2 separate regions of the Homo sapiens genome follow, and region 2 is linked to region 1. Evidence: fine-mapped expression QTL. Tissue or cell type: whole blood. Region 1 holds a variant in brackets; the other region holds the start of a gene. All regions are shown on one strand. Distances are between the middles of the regions.

The links. PIP is the estimated chance that this variant, and not a neighbour inherited with it, causes the effect.
Region 2: SURF4 starts here. The variant in region 1 is fine-mapped to the expression of SURF4 in whole blood (TOPMed, PIP 0.99).

Annotation. Positions count from the first base shown.
Region 1 is chr9:133,247,032-133,255,131 of GRCh38, forward strand. It overlaps the pseudogene ABO. Among named protein-coding and RNA genes, the nearest start is that of OBP2B, 42 kb to the left of the region's middle. RefSeq lists enhancers at 4,803-6,383, 5,408-5,626, a cis regulatory region at 5,525-5,570 and a silencer at 6,703-7,490. The variant C/T (reference allele first, on the strand shown) is at 4,948.
Region 2 is chr9:133,371,546-133,379,645 of GRCh38, forward strand. SURF4 (surfeit 4) reads right to left here and starts at 4,515. Exons shown (of 6, transcript NM_033161.4): 1 at 4,377-4,515. The coding sequence starts at 4,424. STKLD1 (serine/threonine kinase like domain containing 1) reads left to right here and starts at 4,821. Exons shown (of 18, transcript NM_153710.5): 1 at 4,821-5,015; 2 at 7,491-7,577. The coding sequence starts at 4,929. RefSeq lists silencers at 3,940-4,219, 4,230-4,469, 4,560-5,059.

The DNA of each region.
Region 1 (8,100 bases):
CCTCTAGAAAGACTTGGGCAGAGGCAGCGATGGCCTAGGCCCACTCAACCCAGAGAGCTCTGAAGACACGCCCTGCCTTCTGGGAGAACTGCCTGGTGCCTCCTCAAGCAGATCCTGGGGGGCCCTGTGTGGGGGTCAGTTCCCTGTCCTCAAGGAGCTCACTTTGACTCTGGGGCAAACCTAGTGTGGGTGGTCGGCATCAGCCATTGTCCATGTGGGGAGACTGAGGATCAGAGGGGCACATCCAGCCTGGGAAAGCCAGACCACGCGCAGCTCTTGGCATTGTCTTCACCTGCTCCGTCAGCAACACCACCCCCTGGGGGGCAGCTGGGTGACCCCCATCTCACAGCAGGGGAGACAGGGCTTCGAAAAGCCCCTGTGCAAAGCAGAGCTGGGACTTGAGGCCACCGGATTTGGTGCAGAGGAGACAGCTTGGATCCAGGGACAAGCTCTGCCAGCAGGGAGGACAGGACTGGGTGATGGGAGCTTAGTTTTGGAATAAAAAAATCTGCAAAGGAGCCTATCTGTCCAGTAAGCACCACAGAAACAGAGTTCCCAGTGGCAGCCACCATTCCTTGAGGGCCTCCCCTGTGTCTAGCACTTTCCAGAGTTTTCTCTCTGATTCCTCCACTCAGACCTAGTAGGGACAACTGCAGGGCCTGGGCTGCAATGGTGGGGCTGGGCTGCAGTGGTGGGCTGGGCTGCAGTGGTGTGTCTGGGCTGCAATGGTGGGCTGGGCTGCAGTGGTCGGGCTGAGCTACAGTGGTGGGGCTGGGGTGCAGTGGTGGGCTGAGCTGCAGTGGGTGCAGTGGTGTGTCTGGGCTGCAGTGATGGGCCTCAGCTGCAGTCGTGTGTCTGGGCTGCAGTGGTTTTTCTGGGCTGCAGTGGTGAGGCTGTGCTGCGGTGATGGGGCTGGGCTAGCGCTTCACGTGTGGGTCTCTCACGCCTGGTAAACCAAATGCCCTGCAGCAAGGAGTCCACACAGGAGCCTGCCAGGGGCGGCTGCTGATGGCTCCGGCTTCTGCACCACTTGCCCGGGGATGTGGGGGCTCCGTATACCCTAGTATTGTTACCAGAAAGGAGTCCCAGTCCAAACCCCAAGACAGGGTTCTTGGATCTCAGCTGAGTATACTTATACTGATTTCTGGATTATAGGCTCAACAACAGGTGGATTGTTTGTGAGTTTTCCAAGAAAGGGGAGGGGATTTTTCTGAACTGAGGGTCCCTCTCCTTTTTAGACCATATGGGGTAACTTCTGGACGTTGCCATGGCATTTGTAAACTGTTGTGGCACAGGTGGGAGTGTCTTTTAGCAGCTAATGTATTATAATTAGCGCATAATGAGCAGTGAGGACAACTGGAGGTTCCTTTTGTCGCCATCTTGGTTTTGGTGGGTTTTGGCTGGCTTCTTTACTGCATCCCATTTGATCAGCAGGGTCTTGGTGACTTGTATCTTGTGATACTAATCCTGCCAACCTCCTATCTTATCCTGTGACTAAGAATGCCTAACCCCCTGAGAATGCAGTGCAGAAGGTTCAGCCTCATTTTACCCAGTCCCTATTCAACATGGAGTCGCTCTAGTTCACTCGCCTCTGACAGTGATGATCTATCCTTTACTGGGGCTCAGCCTTCACCCACTGAGGGGCCCTGGATGGAAGCATGTGTTTGCTTGGTGGGGATGACAAGTCGAATTTCCCAGCCCCTGTGATCCAGAGGCTCTTCCAAGACACCGGGACTGGAGAGGAGTGGGGGGCCTAGATGGGGGTGGGCACGAGAGGCTGGTGATGGCTTCAAGAGGGGAGGGGCACACTTGCCAGGAAGAGGCTGAGTGCAGCAGAGAGCAGCGGGACTGACATTTGAGGCAAGGGTCCTGTGGAGGGAGGAGGGAAGAAGTTGGAGAGTGATGCCTGGAGGCCAAGGTGGCACCACTGGGCCCTTCCGCAGCTCCTGGGGGGAAACTGGGTTGGGCCCAGGTGAGCAGGAGGGAAGGGAGGGTTCACCCTGGGAGTGCAGGATGGGTGCTGGTTTAGGGTGAGGACCTGGGGAAGCAGGAGAGGTTAGGAGAACGACCACGCTGAAAGTGAAACCGCCTTTGCAAAAACTCTATCAATTAGAAAAATTGTAAGAGTGAGCTGAGCTAACCCGCCCCTCATCTTTCCTTTCCCTTAATGATTCCTGGGCTTTTGGGCTGAGCTAACCTTGGGAGACATTTAATTTATAGTTTAAATAACAGCAGGCCTCCCCCAAAACTCTTCTGCCTGTGTAAACCTAATGAAAAGCTATGAGGCGAGAGGGAGAAGCTAAGGTGTAGACCTCTCTAGCAAAATACACAATTTCCCCAACTGTAGATTGGTCTTTTGAGATATCTTTTCAGGTTTTTTGCAGGTCTGATACCCATGGCTCTACCTGGAACCCCCAACCTCACTCCTGTGACACCCCCCTAAGAAGCGATTTAGCCTGCAGGAGGACAGCTTTGACCCTCCATGAGTTCATGTCTGCCCCAGCCAATCAGTACCTGTTACTTGGCCACCCCTGACCCCCCAAACTGCCTTGAGAAACCCCTAGCTATGAGCCTTTGATGAGATGATTTGAGTACAAACTCTCTCTACCATGTGGTTGGCCTCATGTCTATTAAACTCTTTCTTTACTGGAATGCATGGTCTTTATTTAGAAAGGGAGCAGGAGGAACCCCTTGGGTGGTTACAGAGGGCAGGATGAAATCCCTTTGAAATGAGCAGTACAGAACTCCAAAGGAAGAGATGGGGTCTGTGTGTTTCTTCTGCCACCTGAAATAATTGAAAGGTTCAAAATCCAATGTTATAGAGTTTATTCGAACTCTAAGTTTGACGACCACCACTCAAAAAACACAGACTCTAAAGGAATGGGCTCAGTGCTCTGAGGTGGAGGGATTAGGGCTTCACTTAAATGGGAAAATACAAGGAGGTTTAGCATGATTACATTTTCCACATAAGATTGGCTTATGAGTTGCAGCAATTTGTTTGGTTATATCCTGTTCCCTTCGGGAAAAGTATATTTAACATACTGTCTTATGGAATTTGATAGGCATGGGGTCTTTTGTACCATCTGGTCTGAGTTGGGTGCAAGAAAAGAAAGAAGTTAATTCGTAACAAAAGGTCAGTAACTAAGAAAGGGAAGGGGTCTTACATCTGGTGCCATTTAGTCTTTCATAACATTTTACAAATCAAGAAAGGAAGAGCGTTAATCTATAATTGGAGAAGCAAAGTTCACAGCGACTTGCTGCTTGACTAGGGTGTCAGAATCACATTCTTTCAAGGCTCGAAGTAATTTAAAGTTCCAACAGCTTTAATCTGATGAGCTTATTGTCGACAAAAAGAGTCAAACTCTGAAAAATATTTGAAGAGATTTATTCTGAGCCGAATCTGAGTGACCAATGGCCCGAGACAGAGACCTCAGGAGGGCCTGAGAACATGTGCCCAGGGTGATCTGGGCACAGCCTAATTGTATACATTTTAGGGAGACATGAGACATCAATCAAATACATGCAAGATCCACATTGCTTCTGTCCAGAAAGGTAGGACAACTCGAAGGTGGAGCGGGGAGGTTCCAGGTTATAGGTAGATTCAAAATTTTTTTATTGGCAATTGGTTGAAAGAGTTATTATCACTAGAAAGGAGTGTCTAGGTTATGATAAGGGGTTGTGGAGACCAAAGTTTTATCATGCAAAGGAAGACTCCAGGTAGCACGCTTCAGAGAGTATAGATTGTAAATGCCACTAATCAGACTTAAGGTCTGTGTTAATGTTCATGCTGGTCAGCTTTGCTGAATTCCAAAAGGGAGGAGGACATAAATGAGGCATGTCCACTCCACCTTCTCTTCACAGCCTGAACCGGTTTTTCAGGTTAACTTTGGAGTGCCCTGGCCAAGAGGAGGGGTCCATTCCGATGGCTGGGGGAGTGGGCTTAGAATTTTATCTTTGGTTTACACTACTTTCAAGCTGCGAACATCATAAGCCACCTTCTGCCAGGTGTGGCCCTGGGGAGGGGTCCCTTAACATGTGATAGGAGGTGCCACCACGGCTAGGCAGCTACTTGTCATCAGGACACAGAAGAGCCTCTTGGACCTGGGGAAGGACCTGTGAGACTGTGAAGAGGAAAAGTCAGTTTTGAATCAAACCCATTTTATAAATAAGAAAAATTACAAAACGCTTCTCAGAAGGCGGCGGGGTGGGGGGCGGTGAGGAGGGGGACCCAGGGCACCTAAAGGCTAATTCTTGCTAGAGTCATTTAAATTTTAACTTAAATTTTCTAATGTTGCTAATAGACTTAATTATCTGTTCACACCTTTTAAAAATGGCTAAACATGGCTGAGCGTGGTGGCTCATGGCAAAATCCCAGCACTTTGGGAGGACGAGGAGGGTGGATCACTTGAGGATATGAGTTTGAGACCAGCCTGGCCAACATGGTGAAACTCCATCTCTACTAAAAAATACAAAACTTAGTCAGGTGTGGTGGCAGGCACTTGTAATCCCAACTACTCAGGAGGCTGAGGCAGGAGAATCACTTGAACCTGGGAGGTGGAGGTTGCAGTGAGCCCACATTTCACGACTGCACTCCAGCCTGGGTGACAGAGGGAGACCCGTCTCAAAAAATAAAAAATAAAAAAAGGAATGGCTAAACATAAACATTACTTTTACAATCAAAACCATTTCAAAGGCCTTACTTCACTGGATTCTCAGCCAGTGCTGCCCCCAGAGCAGAAGGCAGCTGTGGCAAGCAGAGGGGCGGCCCCACCTCCACCTGGAAGATTCCTGCTCAGATCCTGGGTCACCTGCCCAACTGATGATGCCCCAGCTGCTCCTGCTGCGAAGCTGAACCCAGAACCCACTCAGGTCTGGTCCCCACTCCGCCCCCAGCACCCCTAGTGCGGCCACGCGGGAGGATGGGGCCCGAGGCTGCAGGGGAGGAAG[C/T]GGGTGGATCAAGGCAAGCCTCGCCTCGCCTCGCCTCACCCATGGGTGTTGGTTTTTGTTTTTTAAACCAAACAGAGCAGAGAGGGGCAAGGAAGCAAAAATGACTCAAGCCCACAGAGGCAGCAGCTCTCCCTGTGCTGGGCACATGCCCAAGGCTGGCTTTGGGGACAAAGAATAATCAAAGATGACACTTTGGGGCTGCCCTCTCCCCAGCCCTCCTGGGCAAAGTCGGTGCGTCCCAGGAGTCAGCCTGGACTTGAACCTCTGACACCCGATTGCTGCTGGCCTGGTGCAGGGACCCGAGGGGCCCGAGGACACAGGAAAGGGCCTGGAGGGAGAGAGCAGCCGGACTCCGCCCAAGCAATTTAGGCGCCTGCCTCATCTGTGGTCCCCCACACCCCCAGCTCACCAAGCAGCAGGACAACCCCTGGAAATCCCCCAGGGAGGCGGGGCGCAGGGATTGCAGTGAGGCCCTGTGCCCAGGCTGGCTGTGCCCTACCTGCGGGAAGAGTCACTCCAGTCCCTCTGGGCTGGTCCAGGTGCAACCACAGTAGGACACAGGTCAACTCCAGTGAAATGTGGAGGGAGGAAGGGTGTGCCTGCCTGCTCCTTCCCCTCCCTTGCAGGGAGGGGCGGTTGCCCTCAGCAACAGAATGCCCACGTGGGATACTGGAAGCTTCAGCTTACCCCACCCCACCCCTCCAGGCCCGGTTTGTCCTGGGCGCAAGGGGCTACTTCAGAGCTGCCAGGCCTCCACAGCAACACATTAAATGTTCTGGAAACTAGGAGATGTGGCACTGCTGTACAACGGTCAGGAATAGCCATCCTGTCCTCCTGACCCGGTGAAAACCAGCTTCTGCTGGGAAGGAGCATGGGGTGGCGCCTGGCTTTTGGAGTCAGGAAGAACCAGGCTTAAGTAATAGAACTGCCTGACCTCCAGCTTGTCTCTTCAGCTCCCAGGTCTGTGCTCGATTTGGGATTATTGGGTGGGGCACATAAGAAGCTGCGTTCTGTGCTCTCAGGGTGCTGGACGCTGTTTCAGGTACCAGTACACACCAGAGGGAAGAGAGTGCCTGATGGCATGGTGATTGATTTTAGTGGAGACAGCTAGACACTAAACCAGGAGTTCTGTCATGCCAGTTGGTGATAAATTGATTTCTTGAAGATTTTTCCACTTCCAAGCAAGGTAGAATAGATGCACCTGTCCCCACGCCCTACACTAAGGACAGTTAAAATCTCTGTATATTTCCCTGGGTATTACACATACATATATAACTACATACATAAACGTATGTATATCAAACACTAAAAGGTGGAGAGAAGAAGGCAGACCATGTAGGGACCTTGGGACCTGAGGAATGACATGACAGGAGTTCCCTGGGTTTTCTTTCTGCCTCATATATCTGTGACTGTGTGCTGGAAAAGCCAGCAACACGAAACACCAAAAGACACAGACAAAAACCAACAACAACAAACCCAACAAGTTGGCCCTCAGCCAAAATAATTAGGCAAGAGGAAGAAATAAAAGGTATCCAAATTGGAAAGGAAGAACTTAAATTGTCCCTGTTTACAGATGACATGATCTTATAGAAAACCCTAAAGATTCCACCAATAAGATGTTAGAATAAATGAAATCAGTAAAGTTGCAGGATATAAAATTAACATACAACAATCTGTAGCATTTCTATACCCTAACAAAGAAATCAAGAAAACAATGTCATTTACAATAGCTACAAAAAATACTTGCAAATAAATCCAACCAAGGAAGTGAAAGATCTGTATGCTGAAAACTATAAAACATTTGTGAAAGAAATTGAAGATACAAATAATTAGAAAGCTGTCCCATATCTGAGATCAGGTGCCAAAAAAAAGACATCCCATGTTCATGAATTGGAAGAATTAATATTGTTAAAATGTCCATACAACCCCAAACAATCTACAGATTCAATGCAATCCCTATCAAAATTTCATTGACATTTTTCACTGAAATAAATAAAATAATCCTAAAATTCGTATGAGGGAGTAACACCTGCTCCACAGTGGCACAAAGCACTGTCAGGTGCCACACACAGCCTGTTGGGACATGTGGGCCACAGTACTTCCCCACCTAAAGTACTGTAGAGGCCCAGGAGACATGAGCCAGGGCCATTTTAACTGTCAGTAATGGCCACAAAGACCCCTAAATAGCCAAAGCAATCTTAAGCAAAAAGAACAAAGCTGGAGACAATACACTACCTAACTTCAAGATATACTATAAAGCTATAATAATCAAAACATCATGGTATTGGCATAAAAACAAACAGACCAATGAAACAGAATAGAGAGCCCGGAAGTGAATCCATGCATTTACGGTCAACTGATTTTTGACAGAAATGCCAAGAAACACAATGTGGAAACGACAGTCTGTTCAATAAATGATGTTGGGGCCAGGTGCAGTGGCTCATGCTTATAATCCTAGCACTTTGGGATGCCGAGGTGGAAGGACCACTTGAGGCCTCCCTCCAGGCTCCGGAAGAGACCTCCTCCATGATCCCTTGTCTAAGGGGAAGGTTCCTCAGGACCTTACCGTGGGGGCTGAAGGTGGCCACCCCTCCAGGAACTTATGCCCCAGGCGCTGAATTTGGGCTGCCTAAGTCTGTGTGCGTGAGTCTGTGTTTGTGTGCATGTCTGCATGTCTGTGTGTTTGCATGCATGTCTGTGTGTCTGTGTGGTCTATGTGTCTGTGTGTACACTTCTGTATGTCTTTCTCTGTGCATTTTTGCATGTGTCTCCATGTGTCTCTGTGCATGTCTGTGTGTCTATATGTCTGTGTCTTTGTATCTGTGTATCTGTGTCTGTGTGTCTTTGCGTGTCTGGTGTATGTCTGTGTGTGTGTGTATGTCTGTGTATGTAACGGTGTGTCTCTGTGGCGGGGGGTGTGTGTGTGATTGTGTGTGTGTGTGTGTCTGTGTATGTAATGGTGTGTCTCTGTGGCGGGGAGGGGCTGTGTGTGTCTTTCTGTGTATGTGTGTGTAACGGTGTGTCTCTATGGCCGGGAGGGGGTATCTGTGATTGTGTGTCTGTGTGTGTCTGTGTATGTAATGGTGTGTCTCTGTGGCGGGGAGGGGCTGTGTGTGATTGTGTGTCTGTGTGTGTCTGTGTATGTAATGGTGT
Region 2 (8,100 bases), 120 kb after region 1:
TGGGAGGAGCCCCGCTAACCACAACCTCCTCTGCTCCTCGCCCGCACTCCCCTGAAGAGTGAGTTTTAACCTCCCGTTAAGATCATCACACAAAGAAAAGTGAGTCAGCTCCTCTTTGCCTTCTCTCCCCACTCCTTCATGATATAGGGCAGGGTATGACAGAGCCTGCCACTGTCACCAGGACTTTGCCACACCAGTCACCAGCATGGTGTTCATCGGGACCCTCACAGTGCCTGTGCCACCTGCAAGTTCAGGGGTCCTCAGGCCTATCCTTGCTTCCCCAGCACTTCAACTAGGGCCGAGGCCAGCTCCTAGGGCCCAGGACTAGCTCTGCCACTCTTGAGGACAGGTTAAAAACACCAAAGGTCACACTGGAGAGGAAGGCCCCATGCAGCTTTTCTGTCACCTTGGTGATGAGCCACCAGGCAGAACCCATTAAGTGCTAATATTGCTGTTTATGGGTATAAACTGCTTAGAAGCTACATTTTACAGAGTGTCTAATAGGCAATGAGGAGCAGCTGCAGGCATGGACATTAGTTTGGATTGCTGAGTTCATTAGTTTCTGGACCCTTCCCATGGCTTCCAAATGCCAAGCTCCTGCATAGAGCACGTCTCAGCAGTTTCTACAGAGCATGGCTCCTGGGAGCAAGAGGACACTGTCCCTGGCTGCCAGAGCAAGCAGCTTGATGCCAGAGGCAGAGAGACAAGAGATGCAACTGTGGGGAGCCTGCCAGCAGAAACTAACCAGACTGCTCGTCCCCGTGGACCAGCCTCTGCAGGCCAGAAGGAAAGATCAGTCAACCAAGCAGTGAGGAACCCAGCCTTTGGGGTAACAGGATGCGGACTCAGTCTCCAGGCCACCACAAGCCAGTGCGGCCAGCCAACCTCCCTCTGCCCATCTGAAGATGGTGACGCTCTGGCCAACCTCCTACAGTCAAGAAGTTCACAAAAGGAATGTCTATCATGGACCCGGCCCAGTGAAAGACTTAATGTCATTGTCATAATACTGGAAGACACTGGGCCTGGGAAACTAAGCTTACTTAGGTCTTGCTTTCAGCAGCCCACACTTTCTGGTCAAATCTTGTCACTTCAGTTTTGCTCTTGTTTTCTGAAGATGTGAAAAAATGGATGTGTCACTTTATCTGATCAGTGACTTCCATGGTAATCCTCTATCGGCTTCAAATTAGGTCATTTTCATGTAAAAGCCTGGTCTGGCAGCTTTAAGTACTATGTGAATAAAGAGAAACAAAGCCCCACCTGGGCTTGGTCAGATTCTGTCCACAAGAAGCCATATTTTGACTTCGAACCCTGTTTACTTGCCTGCATCTGTCTGATTGGGGTTTGGGCGAGTACAAGTAGCTGCCCTCCCAAGCTGCCCACAAAAGGGCATGGAAGCTCCCACAGCCATGCTCTGCCACCACCTAGACGGACTCTTAAGGAGATCATCTGACGGCGGCAGCCTGCGCTGCCTTACAGATATGGTGCCTTACAGATATGGTCCTAACCCACTTGGGTTTTGTATGTGAGCAGCCCCTTCACCCGCTAGTGCTCTTCCCTTGACTTGTGCCAGAAGAGCAACACCAGGGGCTGGGGGCGCTGGGGACCAAGACCCGGCTTTTCTTGGTCTTGGTCACAGGCAAGTCTAGGAGCCTGAGCAGGTTTGGCCTCCCCTCAGTAACCTGGGAGAGGTCGACTCTGTGCCCCCTCAAGAGCCTTTCCAGTTCCAAGCTACTGCTTCTTTCATTTAAAACATAACAGAATACATGATGAAGGCTGGGCGCGGTGGCTCAGGCATGTAATCCCAGAACTTTAGGAGGCCAAGGCGGATCACCTAAGGTCAGGTGTTTGAGACCAGCCTGGACAACATGACAACATGGCAAAATGCTGTCTCTACTAAAAACACAAAAATTAGCGGGGCGTGGTGGCGTGGGCCTGTCATCTCAGCTACTGAGGAGGCTGAGGCAGGAGAATAGCTTGAACCCGGGAGGCGGAGGTTGCAGTGAGATGAGATTGCGCCACTGCACTCCAGCCTGGGTGACAAAGTAAGACTCTGTCTCCAAAAAAAACATAATAACAAAACATGAAGAAAAGGCAGGGCAGGGTGGCTCACGCCTGTAATCCCAGCACTTTGGGAGGCTAAGGCAGGCGGACCACCTGAGGTCGGGAGTTCGAAACCAGCCTGGCCAACATGGGGAAACCCCGTCTCAACTAAAAATACAAAAAAATTAGCTGGGCGTGGTGGCAGGCGCCTGTAATCCCAGCTACTTCGGGCTGAGGCAGGAGAATTGCTTGAATCCGGGAGGCGGGGGTTGCAGTGAGCCGAGATCGCACCATTACACTCCAGCCTGAGCGAAATTCTGTCTCAAAAAAAAAAAAAAAAAAAAAAAAAAGAAGAAGAAAACAGTATGTGAAGACACTGGGAACTTTTTTTTGTCAATAGGGGAGTCTGTCATTTGCTAGTGGGCAGCAGCTTGACTGGAGACATTTGATCTAGATTTGGTTATGAAATTCACTTGCAAATCCAGGTTTTCCAGGACAAAGAGCGAGTGTATGTAGCTCTCATCCTTCCCTCAGCTATGAGGAGCCATCTTCTTAGGGAGCTGCGACTTGGAGAAATATAAATGGGTCACTATAAATTATGTCAATGAAAACTGACAAACCTAAAAGGTCTACCTGGTTCTTGAGAGCTTTTGATATGAATTGTTTTTAAAATTGTGTCTTTAAAGGCTGGGTGCCGTGGCTCACGCCTGTAATCCCAGCACTTTGGGAGGCTGAGGTGGGCAGACCACCTGAGGTCGGGAGTTCGAGACCAGCCTGACCAACATGGAGAAACCCTGTTTCTACTAAAAAAAAAAAAAATACAAAATTGGCTGGGTGTGACGGTGCATGCCTGTAATCCCAGCTACTCGGGAGGCTGAGGCAGGAGAATCGCTTGAACCCAGGAGTTGGAGGTTGTGGTGTGCTGAGATCACACCATTGCACTCCAGCCTGGGCAACAAGGTCAAAACACCATCTCAAAGAAAAAATAAATAAATAAAAATAAATAAACAAATAAAATTGTGTCTTTAAGCACAAAATCAGAATCTTAGGGAAAAAATGCTTCGTCAAGTTGATTACTTTTTCCCTCCAAATTTAAAATATTGGCTCACAGAAAGTGTTGCAATGAGAACCGATGGTGAGGTCACACTAGAAAGAGATCACCCCCCAGGAGGAACGGAAGAGTTCAATAGCTGATCAGAAAACGGTCACTTACTCTTTTCTTTTTTTTTTAAACCACACATATACAAGCCTTCCGATAAGTCTAGGCCTCAGAGTTTGATGACTCACTACCACCTCCAGAAAAATTTAAAAATTTAACCATCACTACTTAAAACTCTAGCAAAGCCACACGAACACATTAAGTAAACCGAGGAAAAAACGGCAAGTGGGCCACACAAGGCTCTCCCTGCGGGGATAAGGCTGTTAATTTGTCGACATAACGGGATTCTTTTAGAAGTAAAAGGCATAAATCTGCGTAACCACCACCACCTTTTGTTTTTGTTTTTTTGTTCTGTCAAGCTTAATCAAGAAAGAGGGAAGGGAGTTGTGTCCCTTCACTTTGTAGGATCGGATCCTGTCCACCCAGTTCCCGAATGCTCTCAACAGTTACCCAACCGCCTGTTTCAAAGGCTTCCCTGTTGCTCAGAATGCCACCTGGACACTTCTGGAAGGAGACTATCAGGGAGATAGGCTTCCCCTCCTCCCAGGCTGTGTACAGGTCCCCACTCAATCCAGCCCAGGGCAGAGTCCAAACGGGGAGGGAGACGCAGACAGGGTCAAAGGGACCCCAAGAGTCCAGCACATCTGGGAAAGAGAAAAGGAAAAGGTGCTGTGGCTTCCTGTAGCTGGGGCGCACGCCAGCGCGCCCCCTTTCCTCTGGGAGGACCCCCGGCCCCCGTTCGTCCCCGAGCTCCCAGCCCGCCTCCGGGAGCCCCAGTGAGAGGAAAAACGTGCGGGGACCCCCCAGCAGCTCCAAACGCCGAGGCGCTCCCCGCGAGCCTCAGACCCGACCCAACGCCAGGACTCGCGCCGCCGGCCCGGGAAGAAACCCCCACAGCCCGCGCCCCGGGCTGGCTGGAGGGTGGGGGCGGCTAGCCAGGCAGGGCGCCGAGGCCCGGGCTCCGGGAGCGGCCCAGCGGGCAGGGGAGACTGGGCCCGGAGGCCGGGTTTGGGGCTGTCCAGCCGGGACAGAGGGCCCGGGCGGGGGGGTCCCCCTGTGGGAACAAGGAGTCAGGGGGCGGCCCGGGCCTGGCGCCCTGCGCTGGGAGGCCGACTCCGGAGCGGCCCGGGCGGCCTGGGTCGGGACCGGGGCCGGGGGAGGAGCCCGCAGGCCGCACCTGGTCGGCGAAGTCCTCGGCCGTGCCCATCAGGTCGTTCTGGCCCATGGCGACGGCGGGAGGCTCGGCTCGGCTCGCTCGCTCGCTCGCTGGCTCTCGCCCGTCGGCGCCCGCACCCGCTGCGGCCTCCACAGGAAGTGCCCGGCGGCCGGCCTCGCTCCGCGTCGGCTGCGGCTCCAGCGGCTGCCACGTAGGCCAAGCCTTAAAGGGGCCGCGCGCCGCCCGGGCCCGCCCCGGTGCGTCTTAAAGGGGCCACGCGCCATCCCCAGCCTCCCGACCCATCCGCTCGAAGCCACGCCCGCCGCGCTCGACGCCACGCCTCTCACGCTGGAGGCCCCGCCCGCCGCGCGCAGGCCCTGCGGTCCCTCCCGGCCCGGCGGAACGCGTCCCTTTTAAGGGGGCGGGGACCTGGGGGTCTGGGGCCAGCGCGCGGGAGGGACGCCTGAGTGCCTCGAGGGCGCCGTTCGGGCGGGGAGGATCCCGCGGGTCCCACTGACCCACGCGGGGTGGGGCCAGGGGTGGACGCTCGCCCGTACGCGGTCGCTACTGATCATGCTTGGGCCAGGGTCCAATCGCAGGCGCCCCACGCAGGGGGAGCGAGGCCCAGGGTCCCCCGGAGAGCCCATGGAGAAGTACCAGGTGCCGAGTGTTCCCTGCGGGGAGGCGGGAGCTCCGTGGGGTAACGGTCGCAACCCTGGAGCTACGGCCGGCGGTTCCGACCGAGGGCGGCGAGGGGCCCGCGCCCTGGCCAGTGTCGGCCTGCAGCTCCTAGGTTGAACCCGGGGGGCCTCCAACGGTGACCTCCTGGGTGCCCTTTGCCACTCAGTTTCCCCCTTTGTGAATTGACTAAGGATTCTCCAGCCCTGGCTGAGTATTTGAGGGCGTGGGGCAGCTCCTCTATCCTTCGTGCCTGGGGTCTGTGCGCTTGGGTCCACCGAGGCAGGACCCCCGGGAACATCCCGAGTACATAATTGGGAGCCCCCAGTCCCCTAAAAACACCCCTGCAGCGTGGGTCTGTGAAAATGTTTGAGACCTAAAAAATTCACAAAACACAAAAGGAAAGCTGCAAAATAAAAGTAAATGTTTAATTAAATGCTTCTATACATGATATATACACTTTATTAAATGTTAGATTCAGCATTTGTGAAAAATGCATTCGCTTGGAAACAGTTTGCGGGTTAGATTTTTGTCACTTTGGAAGAATTGTCTTTGTGTGAGAGGACTATAGGGCGTTGCCAGAGGTGAAGCAGATGAGCTTCTGGTGGCCAGATAATTTTTAAAGTAAAGTTGTTTTTCAGATTAAAAAAAAATAGACGTTTCAGGAATATACCTGCTTTTGGAAAAAAAAATAGACTTGATTCGAGATACGGCTCCATTTTACTGTTTAATTTGCTGCCTAAGCTTGAACGCTCTCACACCAGCTCTGCCCTCAGCCCGCTGTGGCTTAGAACAGCAGTCCCTGGCCGGGCTCGGTGGCTCACGCCTGTAATCCCCAACACTTTGGGAGGCCAAGGCGGGCGGATCACCTGAGATCGGGAGTTCAAGACCAGCCTGACCAACATGGAGAAACTGTCTCTACTAAAAATACAAAATTAGCCAGGTGTGGTGGCGCATGCCTGTAATCACAGCTACTCGGGAGGCTGAGGCTGGAGAATCGCTTGAACCCAGGAGGCAGAGGTTGTGGTGAGCCAAGATAGCGCCATTGGACTCCAGCCTGGGCAACAAGAGCAAAACTCTGTCTCAGAAAGAAAAAAAAAAATAGCAGTCCCCAACCTTTTTGGCACAAGGGACCAGTTTTGTGGAAGACAATTTTTCCACAGATGGAGGCGGGAGGATGGTTTTGGGATGATTCAAGCACATTACACTTAGTGTGCAGTTCATTTCTATTATTATGTTGTAATACATAATGAAATAATTACACAACTCACCATAATGTAGAATCAGTGGGAGCCCTGAGCTTGTTTTCTTGCAACTAGACCATCCTCTCGGGATGATGGGAGACAGTGACGGATCATCAGGCATTTGTTTCTCATAAGGAGCATGCAACCTGGATCCCTCACATGCACTGTTCACAATAGGGTTCACACTCCCATGAGAATCTAATGCTGCTGCTGAGCTGACAGGAGGTGGAGCTTGGGTGGTAATGCGAGCCATGGGGAGCGGCTGTAAATACAGATGAAGCTTTGCTCCACTGCCTGCTGCTCACCTCCTGCTGTGCAGCCTGGTTCCTAACAGGCCACGGACTAGGTTGGGGACCCCTGGCTTAGAATATCCAGTGTCATGAGCAGGCTGCTCACAAGGCTGGATTACAGACTCCTAAGACTTTTATGGGCTCCGAGAGTCCCTAGGCTCAGGCTTCCATCCTCATATCTCCTCCTCTGGGTCCTGCCCTCCCTCCCCCAATCCTCTGATGAATGTCAGCCTCCAGCAATCCCCGGCCCAGCCCCCTGCCCCATAGCACTTGGTCTCTGCACAGAGTTCTGGCTTGGTGGCCATCTCTCCAGATTTGGCTCAAATCACAGGCTCTAAGATCAGACCCCCAGAGTTACCCCAGGCAGTGTCCTGCTTTCTAGTGACATAGCCTCAGGCAAGGACCTAGCTCCTTGTGCCTCAGTTTTCCCCAATGTAAACACAGAGGTAGCAATGGTGTCAACTGCAAAGGGTGGCTGTGAAGTGCTTGGCACCATGCCAGGCACACAATGGCTTCCTGATTGTACCAGTCACAAGATTGGTTACTTTCTTGTTGGAAACCAGTTGGGAGGTGGATGCTGGAAGTTGAGGTCACAGAGGTCTATAGAGAGTGAATAAGCCCTTTTTCTCTGGGAGGTTCTTGCACTTGAGTGCCCAGCTGGTCCTCATTGCAGGTTGGGGGAGGGATACAGGGTTGTAGAAGAGCTCCAGAATCGGCCCCAAATAGGTGAGATCAGAGTTCTGCCATTGAAAGGCTTCTTGCCCTCCTTGGGCCATTTCCTCTATTGCAAGATGGGGTGGAGCCACTTGCTCTGCCAGCCTGACAGGGGAGTTAGCAGGGCCAGAAAAGGAGTTGGAGCTGGGCTTTTGGAAAGGGAAAAGTTGTGTGCATTTCCTGAAAGCTTCTCTCTTCCTTGCTGATAGGTTTTGTACCAGCTGAATCCTGGGGCCTTGGGGGTGAACCTGGTGGTGGAGGAAATGGAAACCAAAGTCAAGCATGTGATAAAGCAGGTAAGAGGCCAAGCCTGTGCATCCCATGCCGGGTGGTTCTGTGACTGTGATTTTCCCCAATACAAGCTCTTCCCATGTTGGAGAAGCTTCCTGATGCGGCAGCTGGATTCCTCGCTGCTGACACTTGCGGAGACTAATCTGGTTGGGGTAGATGTGGGGGTGCGTGAAGCTCTGTCACCTTGATGGGGAAGCAATGCTAATTTTTACTCCAACACCACCACCTCCCACCATTTACGCATCACGTGCTGTATGCCAGGCACTGACTCACTTCATCTCCCGTCAACCCTGTAAAGCAGAAACAATGACCCTGTTTATAGCCAAAGACAGTGAGGCTCAATGCAGCGCCAGACTAGGCAAGGTCACACAATTTCCAAGAGGATTTGAATTCAGGCCACCTCACTGGGGGACACCGTGCTACCCAGTGCTGGGTCACCAGTTTTACCAAAAGGGAGCCAGGCCCAGAGAGGATGGGGACTGGCTCAAGGTCACACAGGGCTAAGGTCACACACCAGGCCCTGAGCCC